4 separate regions of the Homo sapiens genome follow, and all the other regions are reported to be linked to region 3. The links are microRNA targets in miRTarBase. Many come from high-throughput screens and were not tested one by one. Region 3 holds a microRNA gene; each other region holds the end of a gene's coding sequence.

Region 1 (3,246 bases), not on the chromosome of region 3:
TTATATATATTTTTTAACATTTTAAGTTTAACAGATTGTATTCCTTTCAAGTTTCTATACTTGCTTAAGCAATCTTGATTTGAGTAAGGGTCTTGATTTGTGCTATTATGTTCTGTTAGTTTTGGCATGAATATACTAAAGCTTTTTTTTTTTTTTCTAGCATGTGTTTTCTCCTCTTTGGTTCTCTTTGTATTTACTACTTTTCTCTTTTTCTTGTGTTTTTTTTTTCCTGTTTTTGTTTTGTTTGGTGTTTTGTTCCTGTCTTCATTGTTTCAGGTATTTCTTTACCCCTCTGGATTCCCCACGGGCTGGATCGAGATGGTCCAGTTATGCCCAGCTCCTTCCTCCTCCTCCTCCTCCTCTGGTAGAGCACTCTTGCGATGCTGACACTGCCAACCTCCAGTATCCTCACCCTCGCAGACGATATCTCTCTCGGCCTCTTAATCCCTTACCTGAGAATGAAGGGATTTAAAACACTGATTTAACATTGAAAGGCCTTATTCAAGTGCTTGTAAATGCTTTCATTTCTGGCTGCTTTTTGTTTTTCATTTTCTTTCAGAAGATTTTTCTAACTTAGGGTCTGTCTTGCATGTATTACAACCAGAATACAGTGTTTGGAACCTAAATCTGTTTGTGCGTCTGCATCAAAGGAACATTTGCTTCACTGGGTGATAACCTTTGATGAAATGAGATATGTCCAAGTAACGTTAACTGTGAAGTTACACACAGTAGCTGACTTCAAAGTGCCTGTTCTGTAAATTTTATTTTAAACTGTTACCATAGTCTTAAGTTGTTTATGCTTTATCAGACTGGCTAATGTGAAAGCATAATATTATGAAGTTTATTCTGCCTTATGAGACCTTAAAAAATGGATTTCATTTTACAGGCTAATGTTGTAACTGACTAGTATGTAAAATAAATCATTCCTGTGTATAAAGCAGCAAAACCTAATGTGGACTTTTTGGTCTTTTTTTTTTTTTTTTTTTTTTAAAGGAAATTGCCTTTCACTACTTGGAATTACTGTTTAAAGCTTTTGTAATTATTATCCAAGTAGGTTATGTAATAAAATATATTTAAAAATATACGAATCTCTTGCCTTATAAAAACAGAATGTATTTTATTTAAGATAATTGCCAAGGCTTACTCTTCTTTCACTATCTCACAAAAAACCCAAACAAAAATTAGGAGATGTGAGCAAATATTACATTTATTTAAAAGGTAGAAAGTCAGTATGTAGACTACTAACATTTAGAATGGACAGATGTTGACTTTCAGTCTAATTAGTCAACATTAGAATATTTTCTAGAATATTTTAAAATGAGAATGTACTTGATTATAATTGTGGTAAAATGATTAAAACTAGTAATATGCTTGTTGGTTCAGTTTTGTCAGGAATTGTCAAGGGTTTAACCTCTTATCAGGGCTAGAGAGAGAGGTGTTTTGAACAGTATTTCATGTAACAGATTACATGAAATATCAGGTAATCACATAGGTGACATAGTTATTATAACTATTCTAATTTTCAAAGACGCCTTTCCTTGAATAGTGTCATAGCTCTAGTACTTCTTAATATGCAAAGGATTAAGAGCTGATAGAAAGATTCTGTTCATTTTATTTTATTTTTTATTTTTTAAGACAGTGTCTCACCCTGTTGCCCAGGCTAGAGTGTAGTGGCATGATCATGGCTCACTGCAGCCTTGAACTTCCGGGCTCAAGCGATCCCCCCACCTCAGTCTCTTGAGTAGCTGGGACTGCTGGTGCACGCCACCATGCCCTGGCTATTTTTTTAAAATTTTTTTTTAGTGAGGGGTCTCACTTTTTGCCCAGGCTGGTCTCAAACTCCTAGGCTCAATCCATCATCCCACCTTGGCCTCCCAAAGTGCTGGGATTACAGGCATGAGTCACCTCACCTAGCCTATTCATTTTAGTTTAAGGAACATTTGAGTTTTATTGTCTAATAATCAAAGTGTTTTGTCTCTAAAGTTAGCATTTCAATGTAAATATCTTTTTCAAATAATTCTCAAAGGTCTTCCTCTGGTTAAATGACTTGCTAGGCTTGTAGCCTTATGGAGGATCAAACAAGAAGTCTTAATGCTGAATCTAACCCAGAATTAAGAAGCCATGTCTTTGAGCTTTCAGACATAGAGGTACCTTGGGTAAGAATGGAATAATGAAATTGAGACCATTCTCCAGTTTAATTTAGTGAATCCTGAGCATCTACCATGTGCAAGATACTGTGCCAAACACTGGGGTATGTAGAAAAATAGGTAGTCTGCACACAAACTTACACTCGTGGGAGAAGGCATTTTTAGAATTTACAAAAGGTAATGGGTTCAGCTTTGTAATAATGGTAGAAATTGTATAGTAGGCATAAAAGAGACAAGTTATTTGAGCTGGCAGAATTTGGAAGGGATGTCTGATTTCAATAGGTAAAAGAGGGCCGGGGTGTGTTTACGGAATAGGATATAAGTAACAGTCTGATGAAAGAGTAGGGTTCATTTAGGGAACTACTGGGACATTAACCTGAAATCATACCTTGTGGTTACATTGTAGAAGGTTTTGAGTATTGGCTGAGGCATACCACTTTAAGCAGTTGGTAAAAGGGGAGCTGAGAGATGTCTGAACTTAAAACTGGATAGGCCTCACTTCTAATTCCCTGGGAGGCACCCTGGTCATGGGGCCTCTGCAGGCTCTACTCAGTGTCTAAAGAGATTTGGAAATCACAGTGGGAGTTCTGTTCCTCCTTTCCAGTTGGCAAGTGAGGTGAGATACTGAGGTATAAGATAATAGCTAATGTTTGTTGAGTATTTCCATGGGCCATTATTTTTCTAGATACCTTACAGAAGTAGCTTTAAATCCTCACAGTAAGCCTCTGAGGCAAGCGCTTTAATTATCCCCACTTTACAGACAAGGAAACCGGCTGGTTAAAGCTACTTGCCCAAGGCTACACAGTTTGGAAGAGGGAGGTAGAGCCAGGATTCAGATCCAGGCAGCCTGGCGTCAGAGTCCAGGCTCTCCTGCTGCCGAGACTCTGAATCAGAGATCTCTGTTAATAGAGTCCTATCAGGTTACTGAGTGTTGTGGGGAGTGCTGTGGTGACTTGAGGATATTTATGGAGGAAGGACATTTATTAACAAGGATCTGGTGTGAGTGACAGTCCGGAACCTGTAGACACATTTAAGCAGTTCACCTCCAATGTGTGACCGCTTTGTAGAAAAAGAGGTTAAGAGAGGTCAGCTCTAGGGC
Region 2 (3,000 bases), not on the chromosome of region 3:
CTTTGTAGAACATTATGAGACTTCTTTAAAACACTGAGACTAAAGCAAATGAACTGGTTATCAAACTGAACACAAGTCAATTTTTTAAATGTAGAAACTGCACCCAAAAATGAGTTCCTGAGACTGAAGGTCCTTATTCCCATGTTGGAGCATTCTTTTTCTGAGCAATTTCCCTTAGTCAAGCAAACAGAAAACTTTCTCCACATTGTACTAGTTGGGCATTTTTACTTATCTTCCTCACCAAACTCCAAAAAAAGTGGGCTTGTCAAATAACTGTAATTCAAGTAAATTTCAACATTAATCTCTACCAGACTAACAGATCCACTCATCACAGAAGTATCATGAACTGTTAAACTGGTACCAGGTCTGGTTAAGACTGCAGGCTTATCGCACATGCCTTTAAAGAGGACACACCTGATTTTTAAGCTTTGACACCTGCACATTTTAAGTTTCCATGTCTAGTATTTGTACAAACTAAATGAGGTGAAATTTTCAGAGTGTAAAATCTAACAGAAATAAAGTAAATCAATATGAGTTATGTGTTAGACTTTCATTCGTTTTCCTGTCTTCATATTACTAACGTGCTTTTTTGTTCAATCTCTTTGCTGAACAGATAAATTTTATCAACTTGTGTGGTGTAAAAGGATGGCCATTAAAGTTAACTGGTCCAACTCTGTCATTTTACAGATAAAGAAACCAAGACCCTGAAAAGTTTAATGAAAAAGCTGGGAGCCAGGCAGTTTAGCATTCAGGTACCTTTGACCTTTCTGCTGGTTTGAAAAACCCATACCCACAGGCTTTTGCATGAACTATACAACTCCACACAACAGATGTTAAAATTAATGTAATTAAATAGTGATGTATTTCACATAAGGTAAATATAACAAATGTCTGTAATTTAAACTATTCTTAGAAAATATTAGCCCTTTTTGGTCACTGCTAATAGTGTAACTACAGTGTTTGGTCTTGCTTTTCTAAGGGTAACTGATTTGCAGTTGCTACTTTGAGGATGTTTATTTGTCCACTGCAGAAAAAAAAAACATGTTAAATACGATCATGTATTCAATCATGTATTATGTACTGAATTTCTAAGTTATTTTTACATACATGTAGATTTCCTTATGCTTTTAATATAAGTGAAATGAATTTATTCAGAGAATAAAATATTACCTCGATATAAGTTGTTGGCAGCTTGAAAATTAGTCACTTCCATATAAAATGGGAAACCTTTTCTAGAATAGAAAGGGTGTCCAGGGTAACAAAAATATCAGGAAGGTTTTAAGTAAAATTTGATTAGTCTGCAATCTGAGGTATAAGAGAAAGGATGAGCTCAGAAAATTAGAAGATCTGAGTTCAAGTTTTAATTCCACTCCTTGCTGGCTAGGTAACAATGAAGCAATTCAATAAACTTCTGGGTTTCAGTTTCTTATCTGCAAAGAGCTAACACTTATACTACTTACCTCATTAGATTATTGAGGATGACATACACTAAAGTATATGAGTGGTTTGTAAATGGAAAGCATACCACAATTATTATTATCCCAATAATTATTAAAATATAGACCTACAAAAAGTAGTAAATAATTCACTTAGTGACAGCAGGCATGCTCACTAGAAGAAACATAACTCAGAGGGTAAACCATGCAAACATTTTAACTTTCAATGGCAACGCTAAAAAAAAAAGTACAAAGCTATAAAGGAACGTTTTTAGAGAAAGCACTGAAGACACACATTTTGCTGACCTAAAAGATTTTAAAATGAATTAGAATAATTTACATCATATAAAGAGGTATTTAGTCTTTAAGTGGAGAAAGTTGCTAGTCACATGTAAGAAAAACAAGTATTATGGGCCTTCCTAAGACAAATGGAATAAATTCCATCACTTTTGGCTTTTTTATAAACCAGACTTCTAACAAATAACCATATTAATTTTCCAGTAATCAAACATATCCTAAAAGAGGAAAAAGAGAATGTCTACTTTTAAATCACATCCAATGTGAATTTGCGTGAATGCAAGGCATAAAATACAGTTATTATGACTCTACAGGCACCTGAAAGTTTTAACTACCTTTCATGCTTACTTTATATTCCATAAAGAATAATGGAAATACAGGGAATACTTCAAATATGTATTTTTTACAAATCTGTTTTATGTAGTTCTTATTCTTGTAAGATAATATTCCACTGTGGCAGCCTTGTTTTTTTGTTTTGTTCATAATATTAAGTAGCCCATTAACCTTTCCCTTTAAACAGGCCTTTTGATGTTAGTTCTTATACCAAAAAAAAAAAAAAAAAAACCCAAAACCAAAAAACAAACCAACAATACATGAAGATGTAAGGGAAGAGATTAATGAGATACAATTCATTAAGTATAAAAATATGTTGTTTCAAATTCAGAATAATTTAATAACTCTTCGTTATTTCATATGTATCTGGAAATGGGACAGATACGTGTCCTGATCCTGTCACAAGAGGTAGAATTCCAGCATTTGGTACGACGTTCCAAGACAGGGTCAAAGTGACATTCCTGTTTCCCCTATAAAAAGATATAATAAACACAAGTCATCAGAGACACTAGTAGTTCAAAAAAAATTTTAAGACAAACACTGAGATGTCAAATACTTTATTTATAACCATCTATTCCTAACAGAAATCCTAATATGTTAATCTGCAAAAAGAACTATTTTCTCATGTCACTTAAAATCCAAGGACAATGCTAGAAGACAGGGGCACTACATTTACTGATATCCCAGGATGACCCATCTAAACTCACAGCTGCAGTTAGAACCATCAACCGAAAAGTTTAAATGATTAAAACAGTAAATGTAAAAAGAGACGAGCTAAGAATCAGAGCAATGATTTGAAGCCTAACTCTGTCAATTATCTAGATGGACAAACCTTAACAAAATTCTCATGTTCTGAAATTTTCATTGCAAATACAGACGTTTGGCTTGGTCGAAATAGCTTTCTTCTAAAATTATTTCCAATGTTTACCACTAG
Region 3 (3,235 bases):
TCGTAAAGCTGCATTCAGCTGGGCACTTGGCTGGGGCATTTTAGTAAGTTTTCACATGGCATCTCTATACAATATTCCATCCCCGAGGGCCTCTCCACATGGCCTATTTCTCCACTGGGATAACCTTGACTTAAGCATGGAGGCTAGATTCTAACAGGGAGAAATCCAAAAGTACAAGTCCCAGTGAGCAAGTTCATATTTAATCTTTGTTTGTTTCACCTTTACTAATGTACTATTGATAAAAACAAATCACATAAGCCAGATGCAGTGGTGTACACCTGTACTCTCACCTACTCAGGAGGCTGAGACAGGAGGGTTGCTTGAGGCCAGGAGATTGAGGAGGGAGTGTGCTATGATCACACCTGTGAATACTGCACTCCAGCCTGGGCAATGTAGCCAGACCCCCATCTCTCAAGACACAAACAAAAGAAAACAAATTATATGGCTAAGCCCGAAACCAATGTGAAGAGGACCACCCATAGGCATAAATCCTGGAAGGTTTGGTTCACTAGCAGCCAGCTATGTAACATATTACCATATCAAATGAAATCCTATGGTGCTTACCAGAGTACCTCCTCTTTAATGGCTCCTGATCTCCAATTCTTGTCATCTCAGCCCTGTAAGCTCTCTTCAGCTTTTGGGCTTCTCAGTTGCTGATTAGGAATCAGCAAAAACATTAAAGGAAAAGCAATACCAAATGATGGGTTCACCTCTCTGTACTTCCTTTCTCTTTGGGATTGGTCCTTTGAGTTCACGTTTTCTTAGAAACTTTCCAGTGCCTTCAAACTGGTATTTCCTGTATTCTTCCCAGCTTTTCTAGTTGTTCTCAGTAGGAGGGATGGTCTTAAGCAAGCTGATCTGTATTGCTGGCTCACAGTGGCCAGGGGAGTAGAAAGAGCTCAAAGAGAAGTGACTGGTTGGGTCCCAGGACTTCTAGTCTCAGAAAATCCCTCAGTCTCTAGCAGGGCAGGGCAGAGGAGCCCCAGAACCACCTTTCCTCAAAGTACTTTAGCCTATGCAAGCTTAGACTGTTGTCCTTTCACTGTTAACCAGTATTAACCAGTTAACCAGTTCTTCTGCAGACAAAAGCATCAGGAAGTACCCACCATGTACCAGTGGGCCCTTCTTGATGCTCTTGATTGCAGAGGAGCCCTGCAACCTGAATAAATCCTCCTGGAAGGTAAGTGGGGGAGCCCTAATTAAAACTGTAATTCAATGTCTCGATATTTTGGCAAATGAAGGTTCAGGTGAGTTTTAATTAGTTTCAGAAAAAGCAAAGTAAAATGATATTTAATGTACTGGATTTTGATGGATACAAATCTATATCCATTATATACTATATGTTTGTTTTTTCTAAAAAAAAAAAAAAAAAAAAAAAAGGCAACCAGAAAATTGTCATCAATGTTCATACCTTGAATACTCTAATTGAGTATTGACTTTTTTTGGTAACAGCTTTCTTGAGATGTATAATTTACATACCATACAATTTACCCATTTAAAATGTACGATTCTAGTTTTCAATGCATTCACAGATATGTGCAACTATCACTGTTGGCAATTTCAGAACATTTTCATCACCTAAAAGGAAACTCTGTAGCCTTTAGCTATCACTCTCCCATTTCCCTGTTTCCCCCAACGCCCCCAGAGATAAGCAACCACTAATCTACTTTTGGTCTCTATAGATTTGCCTACTCTAGAAAATTCATATAAATGGAATCTTATGTGATCTTTTGAGTCTGCTTCTTTCACTTAGCATACCTTTACAAGATTTATTCATGTTGTAGCATGCATTAGTACATCATTCCATTTTATGGCTGAATAGTATTCCATTATATGGATATTTTGTTTATCTATTCATGATGGACATTTGAGTTGTTTCCAACTTTTGGGTATTATGAATGATGCTATAAACATTTAAGTAAAAGTTTTTGTGTAGATATATGTTTTCATTTCTCTTGGACATAAACCTAGGACTTGGATTGCGGGTCAAATGTTAATTCTATATTTAATTTTTTGAGGAACTGCCAAATTGTTTTCCAATTTTATATTCCCACCAGCTGTGTATGAGGGTTTTGATTTCTACACATCTTCTCTAATACTTAGTAATAAGTATTAAGTATCTGACTTTTTTTTTTTTTGAGATGGAGTTTTGCTCTTGTTGCCCAGGCTGGAGTGCAATGGTGTGATCTTGGCTCACTGTGACCTCTGCCTCCAGGGTTCAAGTGATTCTCCTGCTTTAGCCTCCTGAGTAGCTGGGATTACAGGTGCCTGCCACCACGCCTGGCTAATTTTGTATTTTTAGTAGAGGTGGGGTTTCTCCATATTGTTCAGGCTGGTCTCGAACTCCCAACTTCAGGTCATCCGCCCGCCTCAGCCTCCCAAAATACTAGGATTACAGGTGTGAGCCACTGTGCCCGGTGTTTGTATTTTTTTTTTTTTTTTTTAGTAGAGGCGGGGTTTCACCGTGTTGGTCAGGCTGGTCTCGAACTCCTGACCTCAAGTGATTTACCCTCCTTGGCCTCCCAAAGTGCTGGGATTACAGGCATGAGCCACCACACCCGGTCAAGTCTTGTCCTTCTTCAGGACATTTGTTTCTAAATATTTTACCTTTTGGTGCTATTATAAATGGAATTGTTCTCTTAATTTCACTTTTGAATTGTTCATTGCAAGTGTATAAACATACAATTGAATTTTATGTATTGATTTTGTAACCTGCAACCTTGCTGAATTTGTTTATTATTTATAATAGTTTTTGTGAATTCCTTAGGATTTTTAATACGCAAGATCATGTTGTTATCTTGTATATTAATGATATATAAGATAATATATCTTTCCAATCTGGTTGTCTTTTATTTATTTTTCTTGCCTAATTGCCCTGACTAGAACCTCCAGTAGAGTGTAGAATGGAGGTGGTAAGAGCAGCCATCCATGTCTTGCTACTGATCTTATGGGGAAAATACCCGGTCTTTCACCATTGAGAATGATGTTAGCTGTGGGTTTTTCATGGATGCCTGTATCAAGTTGAGAGAGGTCTCTTTTGTTCTTTTTTTCCTTATTATTATTTTTTTATCATGAAAGGTATTGGATCTTTGTCTCCAAATGCTTTTTCTTCATCTATTGAGATAATCATGTCATTAAAAGAATTCTGTTGATATGATGTGTTGCATTAATTGATTTTCAGATATTAAACCAACCTTGCATTCCTGGAGTAAATCCCACTTGGTCGAGGTGTATA
Region 4 (3,246 bases), not on the chromosome of region 3:
CGAGACCATCCTGGCTAACACGGTGAAACCCCATCTCTACTAAAAATACAAAAAATTAGCTGGGCATGATGGCACGCACCTGTAATCCCAGCTACTCACGAGGCTGAGACAGGAGAATGGCGCGAACCTGGGAGGTGGAGTTTGTAGTGAGCCGAGATGGCGCCACTGCACTCTAGCCTGGGCCACAGAGTGAGACTCCGTCTCAAAAAAAAAAAAAAAAAAAAAAGTCTCTTTTTAAAAGCATACCAGTCTTTCCACTCTCCTTCTGAGTTCTTTACTGATTAGTTCTGGAATAATGAGTCTCTAGTAATTTTGTATTCAGGAGTTTTAATCGACCCACTGTTTCTAGAACCTGAAGACTTAATAACCTATAGTACACATAAGCTCAAATAATGAAGAGTTTTTGGGCCAGGTGAGGTGGCTCACACCTGGGAGGCCAAGGCAGGTGGATTGCCCAAGCTCAGGAGTTCGACACCAGCCTGGGCAACATGGTGAAAACCTGTCTCTACTAAAAATACAAAAAATCAGCTGGGCGTGGCGGCGTGCACCTGCAGTCCCAGCTACTCGGGAAGCTGAGGCAGGAGAATCGCTTGAACCTGGGAGGTGGAGGTTGCAGGGAGGCGGATTGCTCCACTGCACTCCAGCCTAGATGACAGAGTGAGACTCTGGCTCAAAAACAAACAAATAAACAAACGAAAAAACCAAACAACGAGGAATTTTCCTTTTTTTGAGACGGAGTTTCACTCTTATTGCCCAGGCTGGAGTGCAATGGTGCAATCTCGGCTCACTGCAACCTCTGCCTCCCGGGTTCAAGTGGCTGGGATTATAGGCGTGCATCACCAGGTCTGTATTTTTAGTAGAGACAGAGTTTCACCATGCTGGTCAGGCTGGTCTGAAATTCCTGACCTCAAGTGATCTACCTGCCTCGGCCTCCCAAAGTGCTGGGATTATAGGTGTGAGCCACTGCACCCAGCAGGAATTTTCTTAAAATATAGGTCAAGGAATCAATGTGTTGACTGCATTATAGAGTCTGTTTCATATAAACCAGAAGATAAGAAAAGATTGATTGTAGAGGAAACAATGTTAAAGGAAATGCAAAGGAAGGAAAATTTTCATTGTCATTAAAAGCACCAGCCTGACAGCTTGCTTCTCAATGTTTCTCGGAAGACAGAATATAAACTAGAATGACTGTTTTGTTTAGATTAGTTGTAAAACAGGGCAAGAGAAATCGGACATATTAGAACCCATCTCACAAAATCAAACTTTAAAAACTGAAGTACCTAGATACATAAAAAGTCCCAAGTATTTTCACAAGTTTAATACGTTTTATTTATTTTATAATTTTTATTTATGTTGCCCAGGATGGAGTGCAGTGGCGTGATCTCAGCTCACTGTAACCTCCACCTCATGGGTTCAGGTGATTCTCTTGCCTCAGCCTTCTTAGTAGCTGGGATTACAGGTGCCCGCCACCACACCTGGCTAATTTTCTTGTATTTTTAGTGGAGACCGGGTTTCACCATGTTGGCCAGGCTGGCCTTGAACTCCTGGCCTCAGTCGGGTGTGGTGGCTCACACCTGTAATCCCAGCACTTTGGGAGGCTGAGACAGGCAGATCACAAGGTCAGGAGATCGAGACCATCCTGGCTAACATAGTGAAACCCCGTCTCTACTAAAAATACAAAAAAAATTAGCTGGGCGTGGTGGCGGGCACCTGTAGTCTCAGCTATTTGGGAGGCTGAGGCAGGAGAATGGCATGAGCCTGGCAGGCAGAGCTTGCAGTGAGCTAAGATCGTGCCACTGCACTCCAGCCTGGGTGACAGAGCAAGACTCTGTCTCAAAAAAAAAAAAAAAAAAAAAAGAACTCCTGGCCTCAGGTGATCTGCCTGTCTTGGCCTCCCAAAGTGTTGGGATTACAGGTATGAGCCACTGTGCCTGGCCCTCTAGATATAATTAAATGTCTAAAACTTAAGGACAAAACCATCATTCACCCAAACATATGACGTATCAAGTGAGCTGAGATGACAGTCCTATTACTGCTCACTTACCTCTATATATGGCAACTAGTAGAACTGGGTATTTATATCAGAAGCCTTAGAATTATCCTTGTAGAATATTGAATTTTACAAAATTATCTGCAATCCACTTATGCCTCCTTTTATTTCTCCTTCCAGGAACCTTGACACTCTCCTTGGTCGTCTCAGGAAATCTTACTTTTTTTTTTGTTTTGTTTCTTTTTTGAGATGGAGTCTCGCTCTGTCGCCCAGTGGCTGTGATCTCAGCTCACTGCAACCTCTGCCTCCTGGGTTCAAGCAATTCTCCTGCCTCAGCCTCCCAAGTAGCTAGGATTACTGTATGCACCACCACACCCGACTGATTTTTGTAGTTTTAGTAGAGACGGGGGTTTCACCATGTTGGCCAGGCTAGTCTCGAACTACTGACCTCAGGTGATCCGCCTGCCTCGGCCTCCCAAAGTGCTGGGATTACGGGTGTGAGCCACTGCACTTGGCCAGGAAATCTTTTCAACATAAATTATTTCTCAAGGAAAATTTACTTTGAGGTTTAAGACACATATATAGTTCTGCCATATTTATTAAATGGCTCTTGAAGTATTTGATCTGTGGTTGAAGGCAGAAGATATCCACAATGGTTTGAGGAGCTCTGTCTTCAGAAATCTTTTTGTAAATCTAAAATAGAATAGATAATATATGGAAGAACAGCAAAGGAAACAAAACAAAGCCCATTTACTTTTACATTCTTTTTTGCCTAATGCTTCTATTTAACACACATCATGCACAAAGATTTGCTTACACATTTGCTGAAGTCCACATCATAGGCTGAGCTAGTATGGAACAGTGAGGATACAAAGGACTTAATACGGCCAGTTGCAATGGCAGCTTCAACCAGGCTTTCCAAGCTCAGAGTTGTTGTTCATCCAATAATCACACATATGAGTGTCTACTGAGTAGAGCATTATCTTAGGCACTACTGCTTAAACTATCACATATTTAAATAAAAAATGAAGTGGCAAGATAATTTGTATTGCTATAACATTGTCACAGTTTTCTAGAGTAGCCTTCATCTCTTGAATAATATTCAATCTGCTGATTTTTTTCATATTGGCTTATACATATGCTCATATGTCTCCCATTTAGAGTACCCTTCATTTGACACTGCTATCCTCTTTGTGTTTCTTTCCAGTTATTATATGCAGCAGGATTTTATTAGTTTCCTACTGTACCTGACACTT

Evidence for each region. The annotated mature microRNA hsa-miR-4422 reads AAAAGCAUCAGGAAGUACCCA and lies in region 3 at 1,085-1,105, shown strand. An mRNA with a match to its seed (bases 2 to 7 or 8) in the 3' UTR can be bound and repressed. Matches are read on the target gene's strand: a 7mer-m8 pairs with bases 2 to 8, a 7mer-A1 pairs with bases 2 to 7 and ends in A, and an 8mer does both.
Region 1: the mRNA of SEH1L is a reported target of hsa-miR-4422. Seed matches in the 3' UTR shown: 7mer-m8 at 516-522 and 8mer at 797-804.
Region 2: the mRNA of SPCS3 is a reported target of hsa-miR-4422. Seed matches in the 3' UTR shown: 7mer-m8 at 1,517-1,523 and 7mer-A1 at 41-47.
Region 4: miRTarBase lists PRIM1 as a target of hsa-miR-4422. The part of its 3' UTR that is shown has no 7-base or 8-base seed match.

What each region holds. Positions count from the first base shown.
Region 1 is chr18:12,986,586-12,989,831 of GRCh38, forward strand. SEH1L (SEH1 like nucleoporin) reads left to right here. Exons shown (of 9, transcript NM_001013437.2): 9 at 277-946. The coding sequence ends at 472. Among named protein-coding and RNA genes, the nearest start is that of CEP192, 3.2 kb to the right of the region's middle. RefSeq lists an enhancer at 3,096-3,246.
Region 2 is chr4:176,327,734-176,330,733 of GRCh38, reverse strand. SPCS3 (signal peptidase complex subunit 3) reads right to left here. Exons shown (of 5, transcript NM_021928.4): 5 at 1-2,536. The coding sequence ends at 2,404. Among named protein-coding and RNA genes, the nearest start is that of SPCS3-AS1, 8.7 kb to the right of the region's middle.
Region 3 is chr1:55,224,572-55,227,806 of GRCh38, forward strand. MIR4422 (microRNA 4422) reads left to right here and starts at 1,070; the gene lies at 1,070-1,152. The region is part of intron 1 of MIR4422HG (MIR4422 host gene); the gene reads left to right.
Region 4 is chr12:56,729,052-56,732,297 of GRCh38, forward strand. PRIM1 (DNA primase subunit 1) reads right to left here. Exons shown (of 13, transcript NM_000946.3): 13 at 2,529-2,683. The coding sequence ends at 2,664. Among named protein-coding and RNA genes, the nearest start is that of NACA, 5.4 kb to the left of the region's middle.